2 linked regions of the Homo sapiens genome follow. The protein of the gene in region 1 purifies or fractionates together with the protein of each later gene. This does not show direct contact. Each region holds a gene or a part of one and is shown in the gene's direction. Other genes may lie near its edges. The genes, in order: IL17RD and SLC7A11.

Region 1 (4,353 bases):
GGAGGCTGCCCTGTTGAATGGACGGAGGTGACAATTTCCAAGGTTTCCTGAGGCAAAAAGACCAAGATAAGGCTGGGGCTGGGGGGAGTTCTGTGCAGCAGGAGCCAGGTGGTAAAGACAGAGTGGAAGAGAAAGCCAGTATGGATTTTATTCTAAATGGCCTTTGCATAAGAGCCACCATAGAACAGTTTTATTTATTGATTTTATTTTTATTAATCCTCCTCCAAACACAGAACACATAATTTTACTGTTTTTTTTTGTTGGTGGTGGTGGTGGTAGGTTTGTTTGTTTGTTTGTTTGTTTGTTTGTTTTTAGAGACAGGGTCTTACTGTGTCACTCAGGCTTCAGTGCGGTTGGCAGGATCATAGCTCACTGTTACCTCTAACTCCTGAACTCAAGCGATCCTCTAGGATTGGCCACTGCACTCAGCCTAGAGTTTTAATTGGGATAAGTCAGTAGTCTGATTTGTGTTTTTGGAAGATAACTTTGGATCCAGGCTGGAGAAATGTATCGGACACGGGGACAAAGTCAGAAGTAGAAAAAGCCCTTAGGAAGAGGAGGTGGTATTCTTGAGGAAGGGGGTAGTGGAGAGGGACAAAGTGGGAGAGTTTAGGTGCTCAGATAAAAGGCAAAGCGCTGGGAAGAGTGCGGTGAAACTCTGGATAGCTTGGGCTACTCCACTTCTCTGAGCCTCAGTTTCCTCTTCCAAACAGAAATAATATCCACTTCATGAGGTTATGTTTGACAAGTGTAGTAGCTGAGAGTATTGTTTTTAGTCAGGTCTGGATTGGATCTCAGGTCTGGCAGGTAACAGCTGTGTGACCTTATGAGAGTCAGTTAATGATAGATTGTAGCCTTTATGGAGCACTTGTTATGTTTCAACCAACAGAACTCTCCCCAGACTAGGATACTTATTCTAGCTTCCAGGAGGGTGAGGGGGACGGGGGGTTGTGGTGAGGAAGTATTGTGGAGACAGCAAGCCTTTTGTCCAAAGTCCTACTAGTAAATGTGGAGCCAGGATTTCTCTGTCACGTTCCCCTAACTTTTCTGCGCCTAAAACTGGGATAACAATAATACACTTCCTTGTGTGGTTGGGCGTATACAGAAAGGGGTCTGGCACATAGCAGGTGTTTATTAAATTATTATTAAAATTATTATTATTACATTCTTTGTGTTTTCCTCAGGTTTTGCATAGAGTGAGCATCACTTGGACAAATCCTTTGGATTAAAAAAAGATCTACTAAGTGAGGGGGAAGAAACTGCGGCTGCCAGAGTCTCAGTGGGGGCTTGGGGGGCGTGACCAGAGGGGCGTGGTCTACGGGGGCAGGGCCACAACTGGAGGGCCAGGCTGTGGGGGCGGGGCCAGCACACGAGGACTGAGGGTGGGGGCGGGGCCCGGGCTGGCAACGCATGCCCAGTGCGGTCCCCTTCGCTGCCGCCGCGGCCGCCGCGGCCACCGCCCACTCGGGGCTGGCCAGCGGCGGGCGGCCGGGGCGCAGAGAACGGCCTGGCTGGGCGAGCGCACGGCCATGGCCCCGTGGCTGCAGCTCTGCTCCGTCTTCTTTACGGTCAACGCCTGCCTCAACGGCTCGCAGCTGGCTGTGGCCGCTGGCGGGTCCGGCCGCGCGCGGGGCGCCGACACCTGTGGCTGGAGGGTAAGGCGAGGGCGGCGGGTTTCTTGCCGTCGCCAACTCGCGGGGGACGCAGCGCGCACAGGTGCTCGCGGGGAGGCGAGCCCGCGCCAACCTGTCTGCTCTTCGCGGGGTCCGCGGCCGGCCTGGGTCTCACTCCTCCCGCGCATCCTCCTGGTTTCCCTCCCCGGACGCGTGTCCTCCGGCCCTGGCCGAGATGAAAGCGGCTGCCCGACCCCGGCTTTGTGTTGCTAATGAGGTGCGGCCGCCGGCCGGGGTCCCATTCAGAGGGCGGGCGTGAGGGGCGGCGGGGCTGGGCCGGGCGCCCCACCCTTTGTTCTTGGCCCGGGACCTCCTTCGTCCCAGGGCTGCGTGTCCCGGGCTGGGATCCCCCGAGCCACCCGGACCGGGTTGCGCTTTGGAGAGGGAAGGGGGTATTCTCCCGGACTTTCAGTCCACAACCCTGCTAAGGCCCGGGCGGCCGGAGAGGGGACTTGGAGCACCGGGGAGGGATGCGCCCCGCTCTTCTAGTAGCTTTGTTCCTCCTCGCCTGGGGCCGTCACCCCACTCCTACCCCTCCTCTGACTCCGGGACCTCCTGAGAAACTTCGCCTCCCGGTTCAGCCCTTCGTCTTGTGAAGGTCTCGCGGCTGATATCCTCCTTCCCTGCTTCGAGTTGCGGATATTTTTCCGCCAAAGGGCCGCGTGGGTGTCATCTGGGTGAGGTGCCTGAGACGAGACTGGAGAGGTGCCCAGACTTTCGCCGTGTGCATTGAGCCGTCTTCGTGGAACCGAGCGCTCCTTTGACACTGTCTGGGCGATGGGCGCGGGTGATTGCCATTCCCCTCTCAGCTTCCCTGCTCCCTACCTGGGCTTCTGGCCTTGGGCGGCCCCAGAACCTGGAGATGATGTCCGTCTGCCCCGAGTCTCCCACCGAGGCCCGGGTGGGCCCGGCGTCAGGGCACTCACGGCCTTAAGCTTGTGGAGAAAACGTAGGCTTTGCACTCAGGCAGCAGGGACATGACCTTGGCTCTGCTCCTGGGGAGCCATGAGCCTCAATTTCTTCATATGAAAAATGGGATGAAATGAGAATTTCCTTAGTATTGCTGGGCTGAGGGATAGGTATGGAGTGGTTTGCTTAGGCGAACGTTGACTCAGCCTCTTCTGGGTGGCTCTAAACAGCCTCAGCACAGCCAAAACCTAGGACATAACACTCCCTTAGGCACGCAGGCTGGTGCCTCCAAGCTCACTTGCCCCACAGTCCCAAGAAATGTGGTGCAGAAAACCAGGTGTGAGCCAGACAGCTGGGATGTCTTCAGACTCAGTAGCTAAGCTATGGAGACGGCTATGACCCCTGCTCTGCCTCCGCCCCCGCCACCCCCTTCCCCCCCCGCCCCCCCGCCCCATTAGGCTCTGTCATTCCTTCCTAGTTGAGTAAAGCATCACATTTTCTTACTGTGTTCCATTTCAGTAAAACATTACTGCTCTTGTTTTATTGTTTAAAAAAATTTTAGTAGCTAGCAAGTTTCCTCAAGGAGGATCTCGTGTTGACTTAAGGATCCTACTAGAATTTTGGATTTAGACTCCTATTGGCTTTTGAATGACTACAATATCACAGGCGTTTTATTTTGAGTGTTCATGTGATGGCGTAGGTAAATCAGTCCGATTCACTGTTTTGCTGCAGTTGCCAAGGTGGCTTCTTATGCCACTGTACAAAACTCGTGAAGTTTCCATGCTGTGGGGTATGGTAGTGCCCTGACGGAGCCAGGCTGGTGATTTTCTTCTACCTGTGCGAGTGTGTTCTCCTCTCCCAAACCTGCACCCTCATAAAATGGTGGCTCTGTCCCAGTCACCTCACACTTATGCTGACGTTTTCTCCACCACAGCCCCTAGTTGGGGGTGACTTTTCTCAGCTGCTCCTGCCTTGGCCCCACCAATCGTTTCCTTGGGTCATCCTCATTCGCCTCCTGGACGATCGTAGAGGCCTCTGGGCCATGTTCCAGATTCCAGGCTCATCCAGGCTGATACATGGTTCCTTGTCTCCTGGATTTGCTGCTTGGTGGATTTCATGGACCCAGTTTCCCCACATGCTTTGCATTCCCACCCTTTCCAGCCTCACCCCCTACCCTTCTCATCCTGCTCCTAACTCCGGATGGATGCCCTCTGTGCTTCCAAGACATGCTTTTCCCTCCTCCCAGGATGCCTTTTCCTCCCTTGAGAATTCCTTGCCTATCTTAAGACTCAGTTCAGGTGGTACCTCCTCAGGGAAGCCCTCCTGAATGCCATGCCCCTTGCTTTACCTTCTCATGCAGGTCCTTGCACTTTAGTCTCATCAGACAGCTTTGTCAGTATTTGTTCACTTCTATGTCTTCAGACTAGTTTCTTTAGCCAGGCACTGAACCTCATCTTGGTGGCGTCAGAGCCCTGTAAATATTGGCTGAACCAAATTAGACCCTGCTGCCTTCCTGCTAAATCCTGTATTTCCTGATAGATTTTAAGAAGTAGAGGCAAAGATCAGGGCATCAAGGTCCATTGTCTTTGCACATGCTGTTCCTGCCTGTGTTCCTTTACACCTCTGCAGCTTCCTTTCTCGGCCCTAGCATCACTTCTGCAAAAAATTGTCCCTGTCCACACCTCCCTAGGTCATGTCTTCTAGAAGTTGCTCTGTCAGGGAGTCAGCTAGGAAGTACTGGTACACAGTGACTAGAGTATTTGATTCATGT
Region 2 (3,195 bases), on another chromosome or scaffold:
CAGTAATTAAGAAAAAAAGTGATGGAGATTAAGTAGTATTTTGGCTTATTTTTAGGACTCATCATGAGAAGACACAGTTCCTTTAATCAGGAAATTAATATCCATAATTTTCACTCAAAATTGCAGTATGTAAAGCAGATTCTCAAAAACTCTCCTGAACACTTATTTATATATATGTTTTTATATAAGTAAAATTTTTCTCATATTTTTATACGATATGCACACACACACATACATGCACATACTACTTACTACATGTTCTGTACTTGTACTTTGTACCATGCATATTCAAATGTTTATATACATAAGTTTATTATAACATAAACAGTAAAAGTAATGAATACTGTTTAAAATAACTAATATAGTATTTTTTAATTTTTGTGGGGATGGATTCTCAAATACTTGTGATTTTAAAAGATTCTAAAGCTAAAACACAACTTGATTTTAAAAAGAATGATTCTCCTTACACAATTATAAATATTTGCAGTAAATATTTTCCTTATAATACTGTTTTGACCCCATTTAAAAAGTATTAGATTATATTCCTTTGATCCAATGAAAACTGAACCTTATAAATGGTTAGCTGAAAGTAGACCTTATTCTTGTCCTTCTTTAGAAGAGTAAAGATTTGTCCTAGGGAAGATGGCTGACTTCGGTTCCCAACATGCGTATGCATTTAGACTGTAGCTCCTCAGCCCTGTGGACACAAAATTTGGACAGCTTATTAGGTTACGTTAGCAATGCATGACGGTTTCTCCAACACTAAGATATTCACGTTGAAACAGATTTCCTGTTCGTCTTATGTGTCTGGTAAAATTGTTTCCCCAATTACAATTTGACATATCAATAGAGGGTTAACAAGAGTATAATTACATAACAGAATTCCTCATGAACTGTAATCAGTCTACAGGAAAATCATTATTTTATCTTGATTTGCAGATGAATATACTGCTAAGAAAGGGAGCAACTCTGACCTTTGTTAAAGTTGATCTTTTGTAATTGAGGTATAAGGTATGAAAAGATAAAAAACCGAAGGCCAGAGAATCAGGAAATGAAAGATAGTATGGACTGAAGGTAACAATATTTTAATGTTATGCAATATAGTCAGAGAAATATTAAAAATTAGTTGTTTGCTGTGCATAGGTGGATCTCGCAGGAAGCTAATGAAACCTAAGCTTCAGTGCCTCTCACTTAGACATGTTCCATTCGAGGTCCTGAACCTAACTTTGTATTAGGAATTCTGTACTAATTTTGTTGAAGAAGACCAGCAAAGTTGTGTACACTTCTACCCCCACAAAATCTGCATTGTCCATGTGAGTAAAGTAAAATAATTCCTGTTATTTTTTTCTGTTAGAAATAAGTATGGAGGATATGTTTTTAAAAATTTATGAGTTAATTGAAATATCCATATATAACAAGTGACTTTCTCACAATATATATGATGTGATATATAGGGAGATAGTTTCACTTTCATCATATTTTATACGTTGATTCTGAACTATAGAAAAATAATAAATGGGATTTTAATTATAGCTCTTAGTTGGGAAAGAAATATAGAGAGATGTGGGATTTGAATGCCCATGAAAGACATTTTATTTTACTTGAATATATTCTTGCTTCACTTTACCCTCCATAATATGTTGTACATTAGTGCTGATCAAGTTTACAGAGTTACATTTTGCTTTCCTAACCATTCAGTCAGGAATTAAAATATGGCATTGTATAACAACTGGGAAGAAGCTCATAGTGGATATAAATTAGAGTAGATAATGGGTCACCTTGATAGCCTCTGTTTACATTACTTGTATATGGGCAAAATAATTATTACCTATACGTGTATTTAAGCTTAATTTTCATATAAACAGTATTTTTAATCTATGTTAAAATAGATAATATCTAAAAGTGTGATCTCTAGGTAGTCCTTAGTTTATTAGTACTGTACTTCAAAAAGATTTTTAAATAGGTCCGGCACGGTGGCTCATGCCTGTAATCCCAGCACTTTGGGAGGCTGAGGCGGGCGAATCACCTGAGGTCAGGAGTTCGAGATCAGCCTGGCCAACATGGTGAAACCCTGTCTCAACTAAAAATATAAAAATTAGCCGGGCGTGGTGGCAGGCGCCTGTAATCCCAGCTACTCGGGAGGCTGAGGCAGGAGAATCACTTGAACCCAAGGGGCAGAAGCTGCAGTTAGCCAAGATCGCATCATTGCACTCCAGCCTAGGGGACAAGAGCGCGAGACTTCATCTCAAAAAAAAAAAAAAAAAAAAAAAAAGATTTTTAAATAATAGCTAAAGGTATGCTCTCTAGGTCATCCTTAGTTTATTAGTACTGTACTTAAAAATTATTTTTTAATAGTCAATTTTGGGAGATAATTATTTCTTTCCTTATATTTTCCAATTAGTTGGTGTCTAAAAATAAATGTTTTGTCTAATTTTAGATCAGGTATACATTCACAAAAGCATAAATCATAGTCTCACAGGAAATTCACCAATTTTCCATATGTCGTGAGATAACTGTCCTTTCTACAACCTCATAACAATGAATTTATATAATTACCTAGATTTTCTTAGTGTGAATCTACCCATTAGTTTTATTTTCTTGGTAGTTATTTTTTTCCCTCCTCTCTGTTACTATTGGCCTTAAAATACACAGAGGACGGTTACAGTGTCCTAATAGCTGTTACATGTGTGTGTTTCAGCGTACTTGAATCAAGTGTACATTTATAGTACCAATAACCGCCTTTACAGCTTTACAGTTAACAATTCTCTCACAAAACTGTAGAGCATTAGGCATCTGAGAGCCATAGAGGGCCAACTTTGTTCCAGAGTGAACATGCTTTTTTTCCTCAACATATACACTACTGATTTTTTTTAAAAGTATGACTTTCAAGTGAATTAATGTATTGGTTAGGAGAACTGCTTGCTAAGTCCTTATTACCTCTTGTTAAAGCCTCAGAAGGCCGTGCTGAAAGCCAGAGGGGAAAAAAAGAGTAATGCACAGGTATCTCTTTTGCAGTGGTGACTGTATTTTGAGTACCTTGTGTGACAGGGTATTATTACAGCATCTTGTGGGAAAACCTATTAGGCCTTTGCATGTTAAAGCTGTATAATTTGTTGGGTTGTGAGTGGTCTGACTTAAATGTGTATTATAAAATTTAGACATCAAATTTTCCTACTAACTAACTTTATTAGATGC

The links.
Region 2: the proteins of IL17RD (region 1) and SLC7A11 fractionate together in Homo sapiens (co-fractionation; one large-scale study listed by BioGRID). This does not show direct contact.

Annotation. Positions count from the first base shown.
Region 1 is NC_000003.12:57,162,463-57,166,815, reverse strand, and holds the start of IL17RD (interleukin-17 receptor D isoform a precursor), read left to right. Parts: upstream 1-1,462; 5' UTR 1,463-1,529; coding exon 1,530-1,655; exon of another isoform or gene 1,656-1,848; coding exon of another isoform or gene 1,849-1,890; intron 1,891-4,353. UniProt on the Homo sapiens protein: Feedback inhibitor of fibroblast growth factor mediated Ras-MAPK signaling and ERK activation. Regulates the nuclear ERK signaling pathway by spatially blocking nuclear translocation of activated ERK without inhibiting cytoplasmic phosphorylation of ERK.
Region 2 is NC_000004.12:138,166,219-138,169,413, reverse strand, and holds part of SLC7A11 (cystine/glutamate transporter), read left to right. Parts: 3' UTR 1-3,195. UniProt on the Homo sapiens protein: Heterodimer with SLC3A2, that functions as an antiporter by mediating the exchange of extracellular anionic L-cystine and intracellular L-glutamate across the cellular plasma membrane.